Homo sapiens: one gene and its partners. The protein of the gene in region 1 purifies or fractionates together with the protein of each later gene. This does not show direct contact. Each region holds a gene or a part of one and is shown in the gene's direction. Other genes may lie near its edges.

What was found.
Region 2: the proteins of CASC3 (region 1) and ERH purify together in Homo sapiens (co-immunoprecipitation; one large-scale study listed by IntAct). This does not show direct contact.
Region 3: the proteins of CASC3 (region 1) and FAM98A purify together in Homo sapiens (co-immunoprecipitation; one large-scale study listed by IntAct). This does not show direct contact.
Region 4: the proteins of CASC3 (region 1) and UPF2 fractionate together in Homo sapiens (co-fractionation; 3 studies listed by BioGRID and IntAct). This does not show direct contact.
Region 5: the proteins of CASC3 (region 1) and HADHB fractionate together in Homo sapiens (co-fractionation; one large-scale study listed by BioGRID). This does not show direct contact.
Region 6: the proteins of CASC3 (region 1) and DICER1 purify together in Homo sapiens (co-immunoprecipitation; one large-scale study listed by IntAct). This does not show direct contact.
Region 7: the proteins of CASC3 (region 1) and CEP135 purify together in Homo sapiens (co-immunoprecipitation; one large-scale study listed by IntAct). This does not show direct contact.

The regions. Positions count from the first base shown.
Region 1 is NC_000017.11:40,157,537-40,161,036, forward strand, and holds part of CASC3 (protein CASC3), read left to right. Parts: intron 1-3,500. UniProt on the Homo sapiens protein: Required for pre-mRNA splicing as component of the spliceosome. Core component of the splicing-dependent multiprotein exon junction complex (EJC) deposited at splice junctions on mRNAs.
Region 2 is NC_000014.9:69,384,800-69,388,299, reverse strand, and holds part of ERH (enhancer of rudimentary homolog), read left to right. Parts: intron 1-1,216; coding exon 1,217-1,337; intron 1,338-1,962; exon of another isoform or gene 1,963-2,254; intron 2,255-3,500. UniProt on the Homo sapiens protein: May have a role in the cell cycle.
Region 3 is NC_000002.12:33,592,800-33,596,299, reverse strand, and holds part of FAM98A (protein FAM98A), read left to right. Parts: intron 1-662; coding exon 663-811; intron 812-3,500. UniProt on the Homo sapiens protein: Positively stimulates PRMT1-induced protein arginine methylation. Involved in skeletal homeostasis. Positively regulates lysosome peripheral distribution and ruffled border formation in osteoclasts.
Region 4 is NC_000010.11:12,025,810-12,029,309, reverse strand, and holds part of UPF2 (regulator of nonsense transcripts 2), read left to right. Parts: coding exon 1-565; intron 566-3,500. UniProt on the Homo sapiens protein: Involved in nonsense-mediated decay (NMD) of mRNAs containing premature stop codons by associating with the nuclear exon junction complex (EJC).
Region 5 is NC_000002.12:26,275,939-26,279,438, forward strand, and holds part of HADHB (trifunctional enzyme subunit beta, mitochondrial isoform 1 precursor), read left to right. Parts: intron 1-1,134; coding exon 1,135-1,222; intron 1,223-2,675; coding exon 2,676-2,863; intron 2,864-3,196; coding exon 3,197-3,377; intron 3,378-3,500. UniProt on the Homo sapiens protein: Mitochondrial trifunctional enzyme catalyzes the last three of the four reactions of the mitochondrial beta-oxidation pathway.
Region 6 is NC_000014.9:95,085,728-95,088,628, reverse strand, and holds the end of DICER1 (endoribonuclease Dicer), read left to right. Parts: 3' UTR 1-2,401; downstream 2,402-2,901. UniProt on the Homo sapiens protein: Double-stranded RNA (dsRNA) endoribonuclease playing a central role in short dsRNA-mediated post-transcriptional gene silencing.
Region 7 is NC_000004.12:56,011,445-56,014,944, forward strand, and holds part of CEP135 (centrosomal protein of 135 kDa), read left to right. Parts: coding exon 1-78; intron 79-355; coding exon 356-541; intron 542-3,500. UniProt on the Homo sapiens protein: Centrosomal microtubule-binding protein involved in centriole biogenesis. Acts as a scaffolding protein during early centriole biogenesis.

The DNA.
Region 1 (3,500 bases):
TGGTGGCATACGCCTGTAGTCCCTGCTACTCAGGAGGCTGAGGCATAAGAATTGCTTGAACCCAGGAGGTGGAGGTTGCAGTGAGCTGAGATCGCGCCATTGCACTCCAGCCTGGGCGACAGAGCAAGACTCTGTCTCCAAAATAAATAAATAATAAATAAAATATAAAGGACACCTATCCCTGTTGCAGTAAGAATTCCAAGTATAACTTTTGACTCACCCAAAACTTAACTACTAAGTCAACTGGAAGCCATACCAATAACATAAACAGTCAGTGAATATGTATTTTATATTTTATGTGTATTATGTACTGTACTCTTACAATGAAGCTAGAGAAAAGAAAATGTTATTAAGAAATCATTCACTATTAAGGAAACATACTATTCAGTGGAAGTGGATCATCATAAAGGTCTTCATCATCTTTGCATTGAGTAGACTTCAGAAGAGGAGGGGTTGATCTTGCTGCCTTGGGTGACAGAGGCAGTGGAAGGAGAGGCAGGCATACTTGCTGCAACTTCTATTGAAAAAAAATTTGCGTAGAAGTGGACCTGAGTAGTTCAAACCCCTTGTTCCAGCGTCAACTATACCCAGATGCTGAGCAGGGAAAAATGAGGAAGAGGGATTAATTGGCTTGTCTGGGCCAATCAGGCTGACTCAGCTCTATTTGAAGAGATGGCAGAAACTTAGAGTTTGAGAGTTTCTCAATCAGGAATTCAGGAATCTCATGTTGAGCCTCTTTGACCAGATTATTGGGGCCAGCCTGGGTCTTGAGTGACAGGGCAGTCTGGTTCAGTTCAAGTATCAGACCCAGTAGGTGAGTGAGAGACCAGTGTACATACATCTACCAGGTTTCAGATGTAACCCACCAATGAAGACTAGACCACCTTTCCTTGAACCCATTTCTCTGTGTTCTCGTAGGCCTCCCTAGCCATAGCTCTGCCTCCTTAGGTCCAAATCTGGGGAGGACAAGGAGAGGAGAGTAACCCTATTCTAAAGCCAGTTCCCTTATCATGAGCCTTAGCTGCTGCCTTTTCCTACCTAGAACTAGCCACACGTCCATTTCCTGGCCCTTTCTAATGGCCTAATGATCCTTTGTGTGTAGACCCAGCACTTTCTGTGTCATGAACAGTGTTACCCAATCTTGATGTGGTAAAAGAGGGAAGAAGATAGTAAAAAGAGAGAGAGAGCACTTGGACTAATTTTTTTCATTTCTGAAATGTGATGGTTGTACAAGTTGTCCTTTAAGGTTTTTTAGGTCAAATTTTTGTAATTATGTGATTCTGGATATGTTCTGGCTGCAGGAATTTTCTGCTGCAGAAAACCAGTACTCATAGGCATTAAAAAAAGCTACCATTTTCCAGCTTGAGGATAAGTGCATTGGGAAATCATGGAGTCATTATCAAGAGTTTGCACATCTGGTTGGGCGCAGTGGCTCATGCCTGTAATCCTAGCACTTTGGGAGGCTGAGGCAGGAGGTTCGCTTGAGCTCAGAAGTTTCAGACCAGCCTGGGTAATGTGGTGAAACTCTGTCTCTACAAAAAATACAAAAATTAGTTGGGCATAGTGGTGTACATCTGTAGTCCCAGCTACTTGTGGGGGCTGAGGTGGGAGGATTACTTGAGCCCAGGAAGTCAAGGCTATAGTCAGTTGAGATCACACCACTGCACTCCAGCCTGGGCGACAGAGTGAGACCCTGTCTCAAAAAAGAGTTGCATGTCTACTCATTCAGTTCTCATTATCTATAGACTAAAATATACATCTCCCCCCTTATGTACTACTATTTTTGAATATATGTAAATTAATAAAATGTAAACTTAAAGTGTTATTGAATGTATAACAGTTTGTTGTTTTTTGTTTGTTTTTGAGACAGTCTCTGTTGTCCAGGTTGGAGTGCAGTGGTGCGATCTCGGTTCACTGCAACCTCTGCCTCCCAGGTTAAAGTGATTCTCCCGCCTCAGCCTCCTGAGTAGCTGGGACTACAGGCACGCACGCATCAGTTCATTGTGTGTTTTTTTTTTTTTTTTTTTGAGACAGGATCTCTCTCTGTTGCTAAGACTGGAGCGCAGTGGCACAATTATGGCTCACTGCAACCTCTACCTCCTGGGCTGAAATGATCTCACACCTCAGCCTCCCAAGTTGCTGGGACTATAGGCGCACACCACCATTCCTGGCGAATTTTTTTTTTTTTTTTTTTTTTTTTGACAGGGTCTCACTCTTTTGCCCAGACTAGTATCAGTGGTGCAATCTTGGCTCACTGCAACCTCCACCTCCTGGGTTTAAGCAATTCTCTTGCCTCAGCCTCCCAAATAGCTGGGATTACAAATTCATGCCACCATGTCTGGCTGATTTTTGTATTTTTAGTAGAGACAGGGTTTCACCATGTTGGCCAGGCTGGTCTCAAACTCCGGACCTCAAGTGATCCACCTACCTCGGCCTCCCAGAGTGTTGGGATTACAGGCGTGAACCACTACATCCAGCCTAGCAGTTGTTTGTCATTGTATGTTTTCTCAGTGAATATCTCATGGGGATCCATGAAAATTTTTAGATCCTAAAAAGGGGTCCGCATAATCAAAAAGGTTGGGAATTTCTGCTCTAAGCCATTTTGAGATGGGAGAGTTCACAACTTACGTCAAAGTATAGTTATTAGGCACTGCATGTTTAAGAGACAATTCATGGGCCAGGTACAGTGTTCATGCCTGTAATCCCAGCCCTTTGGGAGGCCAAGGGAGGAGGATTGCTTGAGCTCAGCAGTTTGAGAACTGCCTAGGCAACATAGCGAGACCTCGTCTCTACTAAAAATAAAAAAAAATCAGCCAGGTGTGGTGGCATGTGCCTGTAGTCGCAGCTACTTGGGAGGCTGAGGTGGGAGGATCACTTGAGCCCAGGAGATTGAGATTGCAGTAAGCCATGATTGTGCCACTGCACTCCTGGGCAACAGAGCAAGACCCTGTCTCAAAACAGAAAAAAAAAAAAAGATAATTCATGGAGAGAGAGATTATCAAGGAAGATTAAGCTCCTCTTATATGTTAGGTATCGTATAGTAAGTCTCCCTTCCATTCTTATCCTCTGGGCCCATTAGAGGCTGCCGCTGTTTTTTTGTTTTTTTGTTTTGCTTTTTCGAGATGGAGTTTTGCTTTTGTCACCCAGGCTGGAGTGCAGTGGCACAAACTTGGCTCACTGCAACCTCCGCCTCCCGGCTAATTTTTGTATTTTTAGTAGAGACAGAGTTTCACCATGTTGGCCAGGCTGGTCTCGAACTCCTGACCTCAAGTGATACGCCTGCCTCGGCCTCCCAAAGTGCTGGGATTACAGGTGTAAGCCACTGCGCCCAGCCTGCCACTTTTAATAATTCTTGCATATGTTCCAGGAATACCTATGTGGATATATATGTATGTATGTGTGTATTTTTTTTAATGTGATATTTTTAAAATAGTGTCTTTTTTTTATTATTACTATTTTTTGCGACAGAGCCTTGCTCTGTCGCCCAGGCTGAAGTGCAG
Region 2 (3,500 bases), on another chromosome or scaffold:
GTGGGCTTGCTATTAATGATTTTGCTCATTATCTTTTTTATTATATTTAAGTACTTATATCCTTGTTCATGTGCTAATGCTTTATGTGTATTATTTCAAATAAACCTCACAATTCTATGAAGAGGCACTCTTAACTCTGTTTGACAGGTGTGGTTCAGGGAATGGCGTCGTTTGTCCTCGGTTTGACAGGGGCAGAGTTGGAACTAAAGTCTGTCTGAATCCATAGTCTAGGATTTTTTGTTTGTTTGTTTGTTTGAGACAGAGTCTTGCTCTGTCACCCGGGCTGGAGTGCAGTGGCCGATCTCGGCTCACTGCAATCTCCACCTCCCAGGTTCATGCCATTCTCCTGCTTCAGCCTCCCGAGTAGCTGGGGCTACAGGTGCCTGCCACCATGCCTGGCTAATTTTTTGTATTTTTTTAGTAGAGACAGGGTTTCACTGTGTTGGCCAGGATGGTCTCTATCTCCTGACCTCGTGATCCGCCCGCCTTGGCCTCCCAAAGTGCTGGGATTACAGGCGTGAGCCACTGTGCCCGGCCTAGTCTAGGATCTTAAATATACATTAGGATAATCTCTTTCCTTGTTGCCAATTTTTTTTTTTTTTTTGCTCTGTGGCTTTAGGAAGAATTACTGAAAAACCTGTTAAGACCCACAGTGTTATTTGTTTGAGCCATCAGATGGCAAGTCTTTAAAGCCCCTTAGCTCCAGTGGTTTGAAGTAATCATTTTATTATTAAGACACAAAATAGTTACATCAACATTGTGGTGAATTTCTCAGCTGCCCAGACTGGAGTGCAGTGATGCAATCACGGCTCACTGCAGCCAAGTGATTCTCCCACCTCAGCTTCCCAGGTAGCTGGGACCACAAGCACACGCCATCACGCCTGGCTAATTTTTTAATTTTTGTAGAGATGAGGTCTCCCTGTGTTGCCCAGGCAGGCTGGTCTTAAACTGTGGGGCTCAAGTGATGCTCCTGCCTCAGCCTCCCAAAGAGCTGGGATTACAGGCGTAAGCCACTACACCTGACCTGGTGAATTTATAAAATAAAAAAGTATTTGCTAGTGGCAATAATCAAAAGCCATCAATCTATCATCTTTTCCCCAGCCCAACTTTATTAAAGTAAATATGATATCAACATATAGCACAGCTCATAAGCACTGCTCATATCTAGAAGTGTATGCGATTGTAAGATTTTGCTTTTTTTCCTATCCTTTCTTAGGTGTTTGTAAAATGTATGAAGAACATCTGAAAAGAATGAATCCCAACAGTCCCTCTATCACATATGACATCAGTCAGTTGTTTGATTTCATCGATGATCTGGCAGACCTCAGCTGCCTGGTGTAAGTATTAGCCAACATGTCTTTTATCTTGTATTTTCTATTGCTTTTCTGTCTGTTTGAGGTGATTTATGGTATTGGGAGCTAATTATGTGCCTGATACTGATCTTTGCATTTGCATAGTGTATAGTAATTAATATTTCTCTTACAGAAATAAGAGATTGGCAACATAAAGCCAAAGGCACAGAAAAAAATAACTTTGCTAATTGATATAGTTAGTATCCAGAAAGGATCCTAATTCAGAAGTTCCATGTGCCTCTTCTTTGTTCCTTATACCTAATTTTTTTTTTCCTTTACAGTCTTTGTCTTAAAGCCATTGGTTTTGGATTAAAACTAAGATTATCTTTTTTTCATGACATTTCAAAAACTTAAATATGCGTATAGCTGAAATTTAATTTCAATCCTACGCTGTGTAAGTACGTATATTTTGGTATGTTAGAGTGAGATTTTTTAACATATTTGTTATAGTTTGTATTGATAATCTGCTTCTGACAATTACTAACAAGGAGCATAAAGTGTTACTGTAGACTTACCTAATCTTTTTTACATTAGCGAACAGAAATTGAGTGTAAATACAGCTCATTTAACCGAGGAAAATGGAAGCACCTTATGATACAATACTCAATCATCAGATACTTGAATATTTATTACATGTCAGGTGCTGTGCTAGAAGTTGAAAGAGCAGTGATGAGAAATATACAAGTCTTACTCATAGGCACTTCCTGGATCACCACTGGAGCCAATCATGGAATGTGGCTGCACCATGCTGTCTCCCCAAAAGTTCCAAAACACGCATTTCCTTGGGATGTTTGAGTTTTGTTTTCTGTACCTCTTCATTGTGTTCCGGTTGTAGCCATTTCACTTTGATCACTCAGAACATTCAAATGAATGTTGCATGGTACTTTAAGCCATTCAGACATCTATAGGAAAAACATACCAGACAGAGGGGATGAGGGACAGCTAGTGTAGAAGTCCTGAAGTAGGAGTGCCTAGCATGTTTGAAGTCATTAAGGAAGCCTTTGAGGCTGCAGAGGAATGAGTGAAGGAGAGTGTCTTAGGAGATTGGAGGAGCAGGGAGCAATGATATCCTGGAAGCCAAATGCAGAAGTGTGTCATATCATTGATAGGACAGATATGTGAGGACTGAGAATTTAATTGACCCCTGGATTTGACACTGTGGAAGTCTTTGGTGACTTCCAGAACGGTTGTGGTAGAGTGCCAGGAGTAAAATGCTTACAGATTTCAGTGTATGGAAGGGAATGAAAAGAGAGGATTTATAGGTGGCCATTACAGGCTTGCTTTTTTTTTTTTTTTCCTTTTTTTTATTTAAAGAATTTTGCTTGAAAGAACAGAAAAATGGGGTTGTAGCTGGAGAAAGAAATTGCTTTTTTTTAAGTGGGAAAAGTAATGGTAAGTTTGCAGGCTGATGGGATGATGTACCAGAGAAGGAGAAACTGATAGCTCAAATTGGCTCTTGGACAGTTCAATCATAAAAAAGGGAGGACAGGCAAATTTGGGAGCTGGGGGGAATTATCTTCTGTATGCTTCAGTTATCTCAGAAAGATAAGGAGCAAGGACATCATTTGAAACAGGTGTTACAGGTTTGTGGAAAAGTAAGAAATAAGCTAGGAAGGTGAAAGAATTAGGGAACTGCAATTAATTCAGGGATGCATTAAGTGTCCTCCAAAGTACCTATCTGATAGTGATTTAAAGTGAAATCAGTCATTGTGATCATGGGATTTTTTTCCTAGTCTCTCTCACCTGGATGGTTACAGGTGAGGAGTAGGTAGAGAGTAAAGATTTTGCTAAAGGTTGAGGGCATATATGAGGACAACAGCAACGACTGAATGACCATGAGCTTTAATTGGGGGTGTAGGAGGAGGTGCTGGAAACAGAGGTAGATCAGTTCATTGTAGGTCCCACTGGATCAAGGATTGCTCACATTAGAGTGTTAGGAAGTGGTGATCAGAGAATGACATGCTTGAAATTAGGAAATTGAAGTAGTTGGAAATGACAAGGTCTAGGGATCTGGCCAAGAGAGGGTAGGAGATGAGATCATTAGAGGAAAAGACTTCATGGAATTGGGAGGCCTAAGTGTTGACAGAATCATCCACTGGATATGAAATTACCAATAATGTGTATATTAATTGATAGAATTTAAGAAGA
Region 3 (3,500 bases), on another chromosome or scaffold:
CTTACTAGTCTTAACTGGCATTAAATTTATAAAAATGATATAAATGGTTAACTGGAAAGTTTTTACTTTTAAAGGAAGTCATTAAAAACCTAACTAAGCCTGGGCAACATAGTAAGACCCCTGGCTATTTTATAAAAAATAAAAAAAAAGCCAGGTTTGGTGGCTTGTGCCTTCACTGCACTTCAGCCTATGTGACAGTGCAAGACCTCATCTCAAAATAAAAACATAATCTAGTTGTTTTCTGGAAAATTTTTAGAAAAGATAACCTAAGTTTTATTTCTGAAATAAGTTACAGTATAATTAGCTATTACTTGTTAATTTGCTTTTAATACTCAATTCAATTACAGTAAGAAAATAAATCTTTTTACAATGGAAGCTTTTAGTAAATGTACAGAAGTTGACATAATTTAGTAGTATATGCAATTCTGTTAGATATTCACCTACATTTTGAAAGGTTGAAATGCAGCTACCATTTAGCTGCTTTTTGTAATGGTTCAGTATAGTTCTAAATTATGTTTATATTTGTCCATTTAAAATAAAGATAAGTACTAACTTATCTTTATTAAATTATTGCTTATATAAATAAGACATAGATATGTTTTATCTGTAATATATTAGGTATGATTGTATTTTCTTCTGAAATGTAATTTCTTGCTCACCAGTTACAAGGGCCCATTGTTGGAAGATGGAGCGCTCTCTCAGGCAGTCTCTGCTGGAGCCAGTTCCCCCGAGTTTACCAAACTCTGTGCTTGGCTGGTGTCTGAATTAAGAGTGCTCTGTAAACTAGAGGAAAACGTGCAAGCAACTAACAGTAAGTAAACATTCACTTTTAGGTACAAAGTATAAAAATAACATTGAGGTATTGTCAACTGAACATTATCAATACTAAAGCTGAAAGTTGCAAGTTTTTGTAAATGTAAAAAATTTGTAAAGAAGCCAAGATTTTTTTTCCGTCCGTTGTTTTTAGAGGTGATTCAGAAGTTGAAATACCAGAATAAAGTCATGTAACTTAAAAATTCGTGGATGCTGAAAAGACCCTATTACTGGGATACAGAGAAATGGAGACCACAAGCATAGAATGTATGAACTTCCTATATTTTGTAAGATGTTAAATGTAAGATCCTAGATTGATGGCTAGAACTAGATACTGGGATATTTTTCTTTTAGGATTACCAGATTCTAGAAGCATCTATAGCATGTAGAGTAAATGCATTATTATTCTGTTATGCTTGGGGAGAAAGAGAACACTTTGTTAAGACATTTTGTTTATCATAAGAATGCATCGTTAGATACATCACAGTGAGATCCAGGACAATCAAATTTATGGATCTGAGAGCTGTTCTGCATTTACCAATTTTGTTTCCACTGTTGCACTAGTTTGTCGACACTGCAAAAGAGGCAAAAGCTTGGAACCTACCACTCTACCATCTGGTTCCTTCCTGCTGTAGGTAAACCTATAATAGGAGACCAAGGAAAATACTCACCTGTTAACCCACCCTTATGGAGAGCTATACATATAATTCCTTTTTTTCCACATAATCACGTTTTGAAGAGCTCACCTTCTTGCATGCTAGTGTGTGTGTGTGTGTGTGTATATATATATGTGTATATATATGTGTGTATATATATATGTGTATATATATGTGTGTATATATATATGTGTATATATATGTGTGTATATATATATGTGTGTATGTATGTGTGTGTGTGTGTGTGTGTGTGTATATATATATATATAATTTTTTTTTTTTTTTTTTTTTTTTTAACTTTATGTTCCGGGATACATGTGTAGAACATGCAGGTTTGTTACATAGGGATACGTGTGCCATGGTGGTTTGCTACACCTATTGACCTGTCCTCTGAGTTCCCTCTCCTCACCCTCTAACCCGCAACAGGCCCTGGTGTGTGTTGTTCCCCTCCCTGTGTCCATGTGTTCTCATTTTTTAACTCCCACTTAGTGGTGAGAACATGTGGTGTTTTTTTTCTGTTCCTGTGTTAGTTTGTGGAGGATGATGGCTTGCATGCTGGTATATTTAATGTGTACGTGTTAGTTGCATTCAGTTCTAATTATTAAGGAGAGTATAGTGTAACAGTAATGATAGCAACAGCTTACATTTATTGTGTACTCACTATGTTCTAAACACTTTATATGTGTTAACTCATTAAACCTCAGGGCAACCCTATGAGGCAGGTTTTATTACTGTTATACCTTTAACAAGAAAGCCCAGAGAATTTAAATACATTGCCTGAGGTCATACAACCTGTAGGGGTGAAGCCTGGTTTCAACCCCAGAACAGTAGTCAAGTTCTGAGCCAGTGTGCTTGAACACTGTGCTATACTGCCTCTTGACCAGATGTTTGAGAGACTGTAGGAACCTTTGAAAACACCAGTACTAGATGATACCTCTATTTAACCTGGAGCCCCTTTTTCTCAAATGAAACATGATACAGAAGCTAACATGTAAAACAGGTTAGAAGGTATTCTAACAAAGTAGAGACGAGGTACCTTTAGCCCAGCTCTTTCCTCCTCATCCTCCCAGCTGCCTCTAAAAGAGCTCTGTGGAACTCAAGGGCTCACAGATCACAGTTTGCAAAATATTCATAATGTAGGCTTCCTGTATTACAGATTAGAAAATGGACTCAGGTGATCAAGTGACTCTCTCAGAGTTTGTTAATTTCTTCCCCTTTGTGATAGTGAATAGAGAACAATCAAAATAATGAAGAAAGAGCTTTGTTTTTCCTTTGGTTCACCCAGTGAACTCTATACCTTTTTTTATATGCTGTGGGAATACAAGACTGTAAGTCATGTTTGCTGTCTTCAAATTTTTTCTAATTGAGAATGTTAGGCACAAATTAAACAACTGGAGATAAGTACAGTCCTTTTGTTTGTTTGTTTTTAGACAAGATCTCACTCTGTCACCCAGGCTGAAGTGCAGTGGCGCGATCTGGGCTCACTGCAACCTCTGCCTCCCAGGTTCAAGCAATTCTCCAGGTCAGCCTCCTTAGTAGCTGGGACTACAGGCATGTGCCACGACAACTGGCTGATTTTTGTTATTTTTCTTAGAGACGGGGTTTTGCCACGTTACTCAGGCTGGTCTCGAACTCCTGAACTCAAACCATCCACTCGTCTCGGCCTTCCAAAGTGCTGGAATTACAGGCATGAGCCACCGTGCCCGGCCAAGTACAGTACTTAAATGCTGAACCACTTTGTGGTTCACAGAGAGAGGAAATCAGCAAGTACGAGGGTGAAGTTTCAGCCAAGTACAAGGAAGGTTTCATCAAGGAGCAAGGCCACTGGGCTTTGATGGATGGGTGGGATTTGCTAGAGGGGAAGAGAGTAGAGGACATATCTGTCACAGGGAATAACTTAAATGAAGGCACAGAGTGGAAATAAGACTGGCTATTCATGGGACAGTGAGGAGACTGGCCTGGCACACACAGGAAATATTTGTGGAGGGAATGTAGGTGATTATAGCTGAATATGCTAGGAAGAACAAACCT
Region 4 (3,500 bases), on another chromosome or scaffold:
ATGGCCTAAATTTAAGCAAATACATTGCAGAAGCTGTAGCTTCCATCGTGGAAGCAAAACTAAAAATCTCTGATGTGAACTGTGCTGTGCACCTCTGCTCTCTCTTTCACCAGCGTTATGCTGACTTTGCCCCATCACTTCTTCAGGTCTGGAAAAAACATTTTGAAGCAAGGAAAGAGGAGAAAACACCTAACATCACCAAGTTAAGAACTGATTTGCGTTTTATTGCAGAATTGACAATAGTTGGGATTTTCACTGACAAGGAAGGTCTTTCCTTAATCTATGAACAGCTAAAAAATATTATTAATGCTGATCGGGAGTCCCACACTCATGTCTCTGTAGTGATTAGTTTCTGTCGACATTGTGGAGATGATATTGCTGGACTTGTACCAAGGAAAGTAAAGAGTGCTGCAGAGAAGTTTAATTTGAGTTTTCCTCCTAGTGAGATAATTAGTCCAGAGAAACAACAGCCCTTCCAGAATCTTTTAAAAGAGTACTTTACGTCTTTGACCAAACACCTGAAAAGGGACCACAGGGAGCTCCAGAATACTGAGAGACAAAACAGGTGATTTTCAAATGTTTCTCAGAGTTGAGAATTTATTTTGGAGCTCATACTTAAAAATGTTTAAAGTCTTCATGCCACTGAAAGAACTTATGGAAAAGGGCTCCTTACAGGTGATTTCTTAACATTCCAGGAAAATTTCAAAGTAGAACAGTCTGAGTACTCATGTTTTAATGTGAGTCTACGATAGATTTTGTTTCTGATTTTAAAAAAATCTGCCAAGTAGATGGTGATTTTTGCTTTGTGGATGTGTATTCTTCCTGTGATTTTAAATACTCCTTAATAATCAAGGGGTAAAATTTCCTTTTCTGTCACTTAAACTTACCTGCTAATATTTTTCTGTGTGCTTTAACGTTCTCTCTATAACAGGTTTGCTTTCATTGTTTTGTATTTTAAGTTCTTTATGTCACTGTTGCTCTTCTTAAGAAAATGAGTCATTAATTACCAGTGGTATTTCAGATTAGAGTTTTGGGAAATAATGCACAAAATTAGCTGTGAAAAAATTTCTTAAATGCAACTACAAAACTCATTTGTAGGAGTCTTCTTCCTGGGGGCATTCATTTAAAATTCTAAAGGAGGAATGTACTGTGCCTGTGGTAATTGGTGAAAAGACCTGACTTTGGGGCCAATTTTGGTTGTTAAAAGGTATGGTAGACTACTGTGTAGTATTTGTACCTGAGGAGCAACAAGAAGCTAGAAGTTGATGGAGTTGCTAGGCATTAGGTCAATTTCTATGGAGGATGGATTTGGAGGGGGGCTGAGGGAGTGTAGCAAAGAGGTAATAGCCATAGCACGTGGCTGAGTATTAAACTATTTTAATATTTCTACAACTATTTATATTGCATGGTTGAGAATCTGAAATTACTGTTGATCAGAAATTTGTATAGGAGGAGATCCTTTTCTAGTTTCATAAGTCTGTGGTAGGGGAGGAGTGGTTTAAGTAGTTACCACTAGAAGATGATTGACCAGAAGATTGAACAGGAGTAGTGTATGCCAGTAGTACAGTTAGGGCAGGGTCAAGGTAGAGACTGTGGTTAAATCTTTGTGGCTGAAGGTCACTCAGAGGTGAGAATTTAAGACGGCAAAGGTGTTATCAATAGTTCTTTTAGGAAAAAGGAAAAGGCTTATCCTTGTTTTGTGTTTTGATTTGCGAGGACTGGTTTAAACTTTGAAGAGGCAACCTGAGAGTGTACTTGTACCATCAGTAATGGACTAAAAAGGATTATGGTGGTGCTTTATTCATACTTCTCACTTACTTAGGGCTTAATTATGATTTCCATATGCTTTGTCAATTTCATAGTCCTTTGCTCGTACATCCTACCTAATACATCATAACTGATTTGTGAGTATGCTAATAGTATGCTAATGATTGATTAGTTCTTGGCTACTTTGAGGGTGTATGTGTGTGTATTTGCTTTTGATTGGACTCAGAATCTTGGAGAGTGGAGAGATTCTACGATGTTTTAATCCAATCCATTCACCTTTCCAAAGTAGGAATACATTTTTTAGATTATCTAACAGATAAAATTATTTTTCCTCTGAATACTTCCCAAAGGAGCTCAGTTCTCTCGGTGCCATTGCACTGTTGGAAACACTATGGGCTAGGAATTCTTTGTTACATCAGGTGGAAATTTAACTTCCCACAAAATGATTCCCTTTGATTTGGTTCTTTTTTCTGGTATGGATGGAATACAGGTACTTGAAGTAGGAAATCTATGAACTTGTAACCTGTTCACAATTTAATGAAACACAGAAAGTGAGAGTGAGCATTTAGAAATTATTATAGGAATTTTCAGGCTGGAAATGGTGGCTCACACCTGTAATCCCAGCACTTTGGGAGGCCAAGGTGGGTGGATCATCTGAGGTCAGGAGTTTGAGACCAGCCTGGCCAACATGGTGAAACCCCGTCTCTACTAAAAATGCAAAAATTAGCCGGGCATGGTGGCAGGCCCCGGTAATCCCAGCTACTTGTGGGGGACTGAGGCAGGAGAATCACTTGACCCTGGGAGGTGGAGGTTGCAGTGAGCCGAGATTGTGCCATTGCACTCCAGCCTGGAGGACAAGAGCGAGACTTCGTCCTAAAAAAAAAAAAAAAAAAAAAGTTTATAGGAATTTTCAGTGGTCATGGTATTCTTACTATATTTTTACAGAAGTGTCCAGTGGTTGGGGAAGGAAAGGTGGCCCTTTACCACAGATGGTTTGAGGAATACCAGTAGAGGACATATGTGTCCACTTTTATTCCCATGACAGTATCTCAGATATTCAGACTGCCGTGATGTTTCCCTTTTCTCGTCTCCATGTTAAATACCTCCAGTTCTTTCAGTTTGCTCCATGATTTCCAGACACTTCACTACTCTTAGGATACTTGTTTTGGATGCATTCTTTTCTATCTGTGACCTAAAATTGCCTTAGTTTTTATAGCTACCTTGTTGTTCTTTTGGTTTTTGTTAAACTTATTTGCACTGAAGCTTTATTTCTCATATGAACTGCTGACAAGCCACTTCTTCTTCACCTTAAACTAGTGAAATACAATTTTTAAAGCCTAAATGTGTACTTGCATATCTCTGTTAAACTTTATTTAGATGCTTTTTGTATATTATTTTAGCTTTATGAAAGCTTTGGATATTGATTACATGTGTATTATTAATAGTACTGGCAGGGTGCGGTGGCTCACGCCTGTAATGTCAGCACTTTGGGAGGCTGAGGCAGAAGGATCGCTTGAGCCCAGGAGTTTGAGACTAGCCTGGGCAACATGCTGAAACCCCATTGCTACAAAAAATATAAAAATTAGCTGGGTGTGGTGGCATGCGCTTGTAGTCTCAGCTACTTGGGGGCTGAGGTGGGAGGATCAGTTGAGCCTGGAAAGTCGAGACTGCAGTAAGCCATGATCGCACCACTGCACTCTAGCCTGGGCGACAGAGAGAGACCCTGTCTCGAA
Region 5 (3,500 bases), on another chromosome or scaffold:
GGAAAGAATACTAAAAATGAATTCCCTATAATGGGATCCAGTATTTCATAGTAAATATTGTGTGGGTGTGTATGTGGGAGGAAATCTGGAAGCTTTATTTCTAAAGTAAAACTTTAATATTATAAAAATAAGTATTTTATAATTGCACCTGTGCATTAATTATTTACATAAACAAAAATGGAATCAGACGTTGATTGGTTTTTGACAGCATAATTTCCCCCAATAAATAGTATAATAAAATTATAGATGTGCTCATTTCATGTTTGACTTTCACTGTGCCATTATAATAGAGGCCATTTTTAAAAGATTAATAATGACCTCAGTTTTTCTTAAAGCCGCTCAGATGACAAATTATTCTCTTTGTATCACGTATTATGCCATCATCCTGGCCACTTGTTAGTTGGTCTGACCCTTATTTGTTCACAGACTCACTTGTAACTCAGGCAATTCTCCAGTTTCTTTCATTGAGTTGAGCTTCTGTATAGTTGGCAAGTTTTCCAGTTCATCTTTGCATTGGGTCTGCAGTGTGCTATCTGAAGTATCAGACGGTCAGTAAGAGAAACCAGCTGGCAGTGAGCAGAAAGATAGGTGTAAAGCAGACAGGGTCTTGAGTGGGAACTCTGTTTATGAAGGGTCAGTTCTTTAGAAATCATTTTCATGTTTAATCACTTTTGCTTTGCTGCTAAGCTTTGTGACTGATCATGAGACCTGATAACACAGATAGTGAGGACTCCACCCCATAATATATTTCATCATCATTCCAGCAACTGTCTTTAATAGGTTCTTTTAAGTATATTTGAACATTAAACAAGTTAAAATCAAATTATATATTGATATTCTTGAAGGCCCTGAGCAAAACATCGATAAGAAATTAGGTGAGTTAGGAGAGTATCATAGCCTCGTGTCTGCACTAGAAACCAGCCAGCAGGAATTTTGCATATACCTGTCAATTAATGGCAAGATTAAATATTAGTGAACCATTTCTGTGATGGACTTCATTTGATTTTAAATATTGCTCTGGAGAATGTTAAACTGAAACCGTTTCCAGATGACTATGAAGATTAGTGCTCAAAGCATCATTTACATGATGCCCTTCCCTTATAGTGATCATTTCATTCACTCTATTTCCTAAAGGCTGCCCTTGGAGCTGGCTTCTCTGACAAGACTCCTGCTCACACTGTCACCATGGCTTGTATCTCTGCCAACCAAGCCATGACCACAGGTATGTTTAAATGGAAACAGACAGTACATGTTAATTATTCTCCTTTGTCTTTTACTTGATTATAAAAATGTACTTTTTTTTTTTTTTTTTTTTTTAACACAGAACCTCACTCTGTCACTCAGGCTGGAGTGCAGTGGTACCATCATAGCTCACTGCAGGCTCAAACTCTTGAGCTCAAGAGATCATCCTGCCTTAGGATCCCAAGTAGCTGGGTCTACAGGTGCTCCACCACACCCAGCTAATTTTTAAATTTTTTGTGGAGACGGGATCTCGCCATGTTGCCCAGGCTGGTCTTAAACCTCTGGCCTCAAGTGATCCTTCTACCTCAGCCTCCAAAGTGCTGGGATTACAGGCGTGAGCCACCATGCTCATCCCAAAAAGTACTCTTAACAGAAGTAAAAGATTAGCACAGATCTCTATACTTGTGTTTTTTAAAAAGTAAGGTCAGGTTTAAAATTTGGGGGTTCTAACCGTAGTTAACCTCTTTTTTTGCTCTCCATACCTGAGGAACATTACCATTGGCGTGGTTCCTCTGTGAATAATGTGGCTGGCTGCAGCAGGGATTATCAACTGGAGGAGTGTATCTCTAGGAAGGTACTTCAGCATCTGAGGCATGAGTAAATAGTTTACAACCTGCCAGGCTTTCAACCTAGGTGCTTCAGATATGATATTTTCCCACAAAGATATGGTCTTCCTTCCTTCACCACTACCATACTTGTAAATCATTGCTTTAGATGGCACAGCTCTTTCCTTCACTTTCTCCTTACATCCTTGTCATTTTTATAAATCACTGAAAACCCCACTAACAAACTTTAGCAAAACTGTGGGATATTTTGTAGCATCAGCTCTTAGTGTGAGGAGGCAAGGAAGCCTGAAAGATTTAGTAATCATGTGCTCATCTAGTAACATCAAGGCCCAGGTGGGCACCCCACCTCATGTGTGGCGGGGAATGATGCCCGTGACTGGGGGCGTTCGCCACTCTAGGCAGCATGTGACCAACTCCTGGTTAGAGAAACAGAATACTGGCCAGTGGCCATAAGGAGAGAGGGGGCCTGCCTTACGTTTCAACAGCTGTAATTTCTCTGCTTTGCAGCAGAAGTTAACATTCTCTTTATAGGATAAAAAATCTTTATTAAAACTAAAGCTGGGAGCATATAAATATGCAAGATGTTCTGGTTTGGAATATGATTTGTTCAAGAGTTGGTCCAATGGATATTCCTAGAAGTTGACGTCCATATGGCAGGAATGAAACTTGTTTTTCTCTAACGTGTTGAATGTGTTTTTAGTCATTTAAGAAAATTACCTTAATTCTTCTGAAAAGTTGAAAACTTTAATTACAGATGTTGTACAAAGCTGATAACTGTCATTCAGCTTTTTAATCAAGAAGCTTAAATTGGAATGGTATGTTATTTTCTGTAAAAGATATTCATGAAGTATAACCTGTGCCCTGTAGGTGTTGGCTTGATTGCTTCTGGCCAGTGTGATGTGATCGTGGCAGGTGGTGTTGAGTTGATGTCCGATGTCCCTATTCGTCACTCAAGGAAAATGAGAAAACTGATGCTTGATCTCAATAAGGCCAAATCTATGGGCCAGCGACTGTCTTTAATCTCTAAATTCCGATTTAATTTCCTAGCACCTGAGGTAAGGCTTGTGTTTGCAGGGCATCCCACTGCAGAGATTTAGAATTAGGTATGGCAGTGTGGACTCTGCTATGCTGTAATAGGTGTAGATTCTGTAGTTACAGGAAAGGGTTAATTACTTGCTCAAGATGGAAAAAAAAGATAGTGGTTAGAAAACTTTAATTTGTGAGCCCTCTTTAGAGATCCTCTTTAGAGATCCTCTGCTTGTCTTGGACTTGATTGATTAATGGTAGACAAATAGATTTTAACTTTTCCAAATAACACAGAACAATCCTAGGTGTTAGCATAACACCGGTTAACAGTGTACCTGCTCCTTGGATATCTCCTTTCCCAGCTCCCTGCGGTTTCTGAGTTCTCCACCAGTGAGACCATGGGCCACTCTGCAGACCGACTGGCCGCTGCCTTTGCTGTTTCTCGGCTGGAACAGGATGAATATGCACTGCGCTCTCACAGTCTAGCCAAGAAGGCACAGGATGAAGGACTCCTTTCTGATGTGGTACCCTTCAAAGTACCAGGTGAAATGAAATGCTTCATGACACTTATTAGGGAGTTCTGAATTGCTCCTAAAACTCAAAAACATCCCGAGTGATTTTTCCATAAGTATGTTGGTTCTGTTTCCAAAGTATTCAGCCTTTATT
Region 6 (2,901 bases), on another chromosome or scaffold:
ACTTGTTTTAAAAATATTTAATTCCGATTTGGAACCTTAGATGTCTATTTGATTTTTTAAAAAACCTTAATGTAAGATATGACCAGTTAAAACAAAGCAATTCTTGAATTATATAACTGTAAAAGTGTGCAGTTAACAAGGCTGGATGTGAATTTTATTCTGAGGGTGATTTGTGATCAAGTTTAATCACAAATCTCTTAATATTTATAAACTACCTGATGCCAGGAGCTTAGGGCTTTGCATTGTGTCTAATACATTGATCCCAGTGTTACGGGATTCTCTTGATTCCTGGCACCAAAATCAGATTGTTTTCACAGTTATGATTCCCAGTGGGAGAAAAATGCCTCAATATATTTGTAACCTTAAGAAGAGTATTTTTTTGTTAATACTAAGATGTTCAAACTTAGACATGATTAGGTCATACATTCTCAGGGGTTCAAATTTCCTTCTACCATTCAAATGTTTTATCAACAGCAAACTTCAGCCGTTTCACTTTTTGTTGGAGAAAAATAGTAGATTTTAATTTGACTCACAGTTTGAAGCATTCTGTGATCCCCTGGTTACTGAGTTAAAAAATAAAAAAGTACGAGTTAGACATATGAAATGGTTATGAACGCTTTTGTGCTGCTGATTTTTAATGCTGTAAAGTTTTCCTGTGTTTAGCTTGTTGAAATGTTTTGCATCTGTCAATTAAGGAAAAAAAAAATCACTCTATGTTGCCCCACTTTAGAGCCCTGTGTGCCACCCTGTGTTCCTGTGATTGCAATGTGAGACCGAATGTAATATGGAAAACCTACCAGTGGGGTGTGGTTGTGCCCTGAGCACGTGTGTAAAGGACTGGGGAGGCGTGTCTTGAAAAAGCAACTGCAGAAATTCCTTATGATGATTGTGTGCAAGTTAGTTAACATGAACCTTCATTTGTAAATTTTTTAAAATTTCTTTTATAATATGCTTTCCGCAGTCCTAACTATGCTGCGTTTTATAATAGCTTTTTCCCTTCTGTTCTGTTCATGTAGCACAGATAAGCATTGCACTTGGTACCATGCTTTACCTCATTTCAAGAAAATATGCTTAACAGAGAGGAAAAAAATGTGGTTTGGCCTTGCTGCTGTTTTGATTTATGGAATTTGAAAAAGATAATTATAATGCCTGCAATGTGTCATATACTCGCACAACTTAAATAGGTCATTTTTGTCTGTGGCATTTTTACTGTTTGTGAAAGTATGAAACAGATTTGTTAACTGAACTCTTAATTATGTTTTTAAAATGTTTGTTATATTTCTTTTCTTTTTTCTTTTATATTACGTGAAGTGATGAAATTTAGAATGACCTCTAACACTCCTGTAATTGTCTTTTAAAATACTGATATTTTTATTTGTTAATAATACTTTGCCCTCAGAAAGATTCTGATACCCTGCCTTGACAACATGAAACTTGAGGCTGCTTTGGTTCATGAATCCAGGTGTTCCCCCGGCAGTCGGCTTCTTCAGTCGCTCCCTGGAGGCAGGTGGGCACTGCAGAGGATCACTGGAATCCAGATCGAGCGCAGTTCATGCACAAGGCCCCGTTGATTTAAAATATTGGATCTTGCTCTGTTAGGGTGTCTAATCCCTTTACACAAGATTGAAGCCACCAAACTGAGACCTTGATACCTTTTTTTAACTGCATCTGAAATTATGTTAAGAGTCTTTAACCCATTTGCATTATCTGCAGAAGAGAAACTCATGTCATGTTTATTACCTATATGGTTGTTTTAATTACATTTGAATAATTATATTTTTCCAACCACTGATTACTTTTCAGGAATTTAATTATTTCCAGATAAATTTCTTTATTTTATATTGTACATGAAAAGTTTTAAAGATATGTTTAAGACCAAGACTATTAAAATGATTTTTAAAGTTGTTGGAGACGCCAATAGCAATATCTAGGAAATTTGCATTGAGACCATTGTATTTTCCACTAGCAGTGAAAATGATTTTTCACAACTAACTTGTAAATATATTTTAATCATTACTTCTTTTTTTCTAGTCCATTTTTATTTGGACATCAACCACAGACAATTTAAATTTTATAGATGCACTAAGAATTCACTGCAGCAGCAGGTTACATAGCAAAAATGCAAAGGTGAACAGGAAGTAAATTTCTGGCTTTTCTGCTGTAAATAGTGAAGGAAAATTACTAAAATCAAGTAAAACTAATGCATATTATTTGATTGACAATAAAATATTTACCATCACATGCTGCAGCTGTTTTTTAAGGAACATGATGTCATTCATTCATACAGTAATCATGCTGCAGAAATTTGCAGTCTGCACCTTATGGATCACAATTACCTTTAGTTGTTTTTTTTGTAATAATTGTAGCCAAGTAAATCTCCAATAAAGTTATCGTCTGTTCACTTTGTGTCCTTTCATCTTTTTTCAATTCAAGTGGGTAATAACGTTTAAATAGTGGTAGCAGAAATGATCTTTATAATGTTTCAATTCCATGGTGAATCATATGAAAATGCATATTTTAATATAAAATTTTGTTTACCAAGTTCTGCTTCATGTCCACCTGTAGAATTATATAGTAACAACTGTCTTTTTTGAAGACTTAATTCCAATCTGCTTTTTGGAAATTCTGTCACATTGATTGATGCATTCTAGGTCTTGGATTATTTAGATGATGTGTTTGACACATTCTTGAGGTGAACTTGGCTTTTCTAAAAGCAGGTGGACAGAATGTTCAGCTTCCAGGTTTTTAGGACACATTTCCAATATTGTTGATTAAGAAATAATTCTATCATTTTAGCCTTTTGACCCAACTTTTTTTGTAACTCAGTAAACCAAGCACTAATATGAATCATTTGGTTGTAGAAACAAGATGGTAAGAAGTTTTTTAGAATGAGAAAAAAGT
Region 7 (3,500 bases), on another chromosome or scaffold:
GAAAAAGAAGAAATGAAGAGCAGAGTTCATAAATACATAACAGAGGTGTCACGATGGGAGAGCTTAATGGCTGCCAAGGTGAAAAATATTATTTAGGTTGGATTTAAGACTGAGGTTTTTTTTTTTTTTAACTTTTTCATGTGCCTCTACAATTAGATATTAAACATTTTAAAGTAGAGATCTTGTCTACTGCCTTTTTCTATTTTTCCCATAGATTTTAGTGTGGTACCTGCACAGATATCTAATGCTTCCTAAATTAGAACAGAATGCTGTGTATGTGTATGTGTTTATGACATAGGTGTTCCAGGAAGTGACAATTACTAATTTAGAAACAATTTTATTGTGATTAAACCAGGAAAAAGAAAATCAAGATTTGTTAGATAGATTTCAGATGCTTCATAACCGTGCTGAAGACTGGGAGGTCAAAGCCCATCAAGCTGAGGGAGAAAGCAGCTCAGTTCGACTGGAACTTCTTTCTATTGACACTGAGAGGAGACATCTTCGAGAAAGAGTGGAGCTATTAGAAAAAGAAATTCAAGAGGTAATATATTTATTTGTTTTGTAAAGATGTTATTTAGTGAAACAGAAAACATTCAAAGATACTTTATTTATTTATTTATTTATTTTTTTTGAGATGAAGTCTGACTCTGTTGCCCAGGCTGGAGTGCAATGGCACGATCTTTGCTTACTGCACCCACCTCCTGGGTTCAAGCGATTCTTCTGTCTCAGCCTCCTGAGTAGCTGGGATTATAGGAGTGTGCCACCACACCTGGCCAATTTTTTGTAGTTTTAGTAGAGATGGGGTTTCACCGTGTTGGCCAGGCTGCTCTCGAACTCCTGACCTTGAGTGATCCACCTGCCTCAGCCTCCCAAAGTGCTGGGATTACAGGCATGAGCCACCGCACCCGGCCTCAAAGATACTTTATTGACCTGAGGTCGTAAACATTGATAAAATCAAGTTCAGTGGTAAATTTCTGTCATTCTCATAATTTGCATAGAAGCCCATTACTTTTTTTTGTAGTAAAAGATACATACATCAAATTTCCCATTTTAACTATTTTTAAGTAGACAGTTCTGTGGCATTAGTACATTCACAATGTTGTGTAACTATCACCATTATTTGTCATTCTGCTTTCTGTCACTATGAATTCGATTACTCTAGATACCTCATATAGTGGAATCACACAATGTTTGTCCTTTTGTGACTGATTTCACTTAGCCTTAAGGTTTACTTTACCTCAAGGTTCATCCATATTGTGTAGCATGTGTCAGAATTTCATCCTTTTTTAAGGCTGAATAACATTTCATTGTATGTATGTACCACATTTTTGTTTAGCCATTCCTCTGTCAATGGACATTTGATTTGTTTCTACCTTTTGGCTGTTGTGAATAATGCTGCTATGAACATGAGTATACAAATATATCTGTTCGGGTGCTTGCTTTCAGTTCTTTTGGGTATATACCCAGAAGTGGAATTACTGGATCATATGATAATTCTGTGTTTAATTTTTTGAGGAATAGCCATGTGGTTTTTCCGTAGGTGCTACACCATTTTACATTTCTACCAGCAATGCACGAGGGTTCCAGTTGCTCCATATCCTTGCCAACACTTGTAATTTTTTTATTTTTTATAAGAGCCGTCATAATGGGAATAGAGCGGTATCTCGTGGTTCTGATTTGCATTTCCTTAATGGTTAGTGATGTTGAGCATCTTTTCATTTGTTTATTGACGATTTGTGTATCTTCTTTGGAGACATGCTTATTCAAATCCTTTGTTCATTTTTTAATCAGATTGTTTTAAATTGTTGTTGTAGAAGTTCTTTACATATTCTGGAGATTAATACCTTAGTGTATACGTGATTTGCAAATATTTTCTCCCATTGTGTGGGTTGCCTTTTCAACAGTTTTTGATGTACAGAAGTTTTCAATTTAAATGAAGTCCAATTTTTTTTTTCCTTTGATGCCTATACTTGTGGTGTCATATCCAAGAAATTATTGTTAACTGCAATGTCATAAAGCTTTTCCCCTATGTTTTCTAATAAGAGTTTTATAGTTTTAGCTCATATATTCAGGTCTTTGTTTCATTTTGAGTTAATTTTTACAAATGATATAAGAGCCCAGCATCATTTTTTTGCATGTGGATTTAAATAAGATTTTGTCATAAAGACAGTCTGATAAAAATCTCATAATAAAAAATTTGAGTTCAGTTAAAATATAGGGACCCTGGGTTAGATTGATATACAATAGTTGGCCATTATTGTCATTTTTGTTTTGTTTTGTTTGTATAGTTTTATAATTTTTATCTTTCAGGAGAAAGTATTGACTATCTGTAGCAGATAGAATTATAGCCTCCAGAAAGATATATTGAGCCCCAGTCTCTTATTTGGAAAAAGTGTCTTTGCAGATGGAATCAAGTTAAAATGAGGTCATAGCGGATTAGGGTTAGACCCTAAGACCAATGGACTGATGTCTTTATAGGACAATGGATATTTGGACACAGAAAACACAGGAGAGAACACCACGTAAAGATGGAGGCAAAGATTAGAGTGATATGTGTAGAAGTCAAGGAGTGTCAAGGACTGCCAGTAGCCATCAGAAACTAGGAGAGAGGCAAAGAACAGATTCTGCTTCAGAATCTCCAGAAGGAACCAAACCTGCCAACACCTGAATTTTGGACTTCCAGCTTACCGAATTGTGAGAGAATAATTTCTATTTTTTTAGGCCACACAATTTGTGGCAATTTGTTACAGCTGCCCTAGGAAACTAATACAGATTATAGCACCAGAAAGTGGGTTGCTGCTACAACAAACACCTGAAAATATGAAAGTGGCTTTGGAATTGGGTAATGAGTAGAGACTGAAAGAGTTTTGAAGTGCTTGACAGAAAAAGCCCAGATTGCCTTGAAGAGATCATTGGTAGAAATAGGGACATGAAAGGCAATTGTGATGAAGACTCAGAAGAGATGAGAGCTGTAAAGAAAACTTCTATTATTTACAGAATACATATGTTGTCATGGATGGATTTTGCCAGAAATATGAATGTTTCCTCTGGTGATGTCTCAGACAGAGTTGAGAAAAGATGTTACTTGTTATAAAGTGACAGAGAACTTGGCTAAGTTACGGTCTACTGTTGGGAGAAAAGTAGAATTTGTAAGGGATGAACTCGGATATTTAGCTGAGGAGATTTCCAAGCAAAGTGCGGAAGAGACATCCTGGTTTCTCCTTGTTACTTACAGTAAAATATGAGAGGAAAGAGAGAAATGGAGCAAGGAACTGAAAAGCAAAAAAGAAAGCAAGACATGAAGCCAGGTGTGGTAGCTGACACCTGTAATCCTAGTACTTTGGAAGGTCAGGGCAGGCAGATCGCTCAAGCAATCCACCTGTGTCCACCAAAAAACTACGCTCAGGAGTTCAAGACCAGCCTGGACAACATGGCAAAACCCCATCTCTACAAAAAATACAAATAATTAGCCAAACATGGTGGCACGTGGCTGTAGTCCC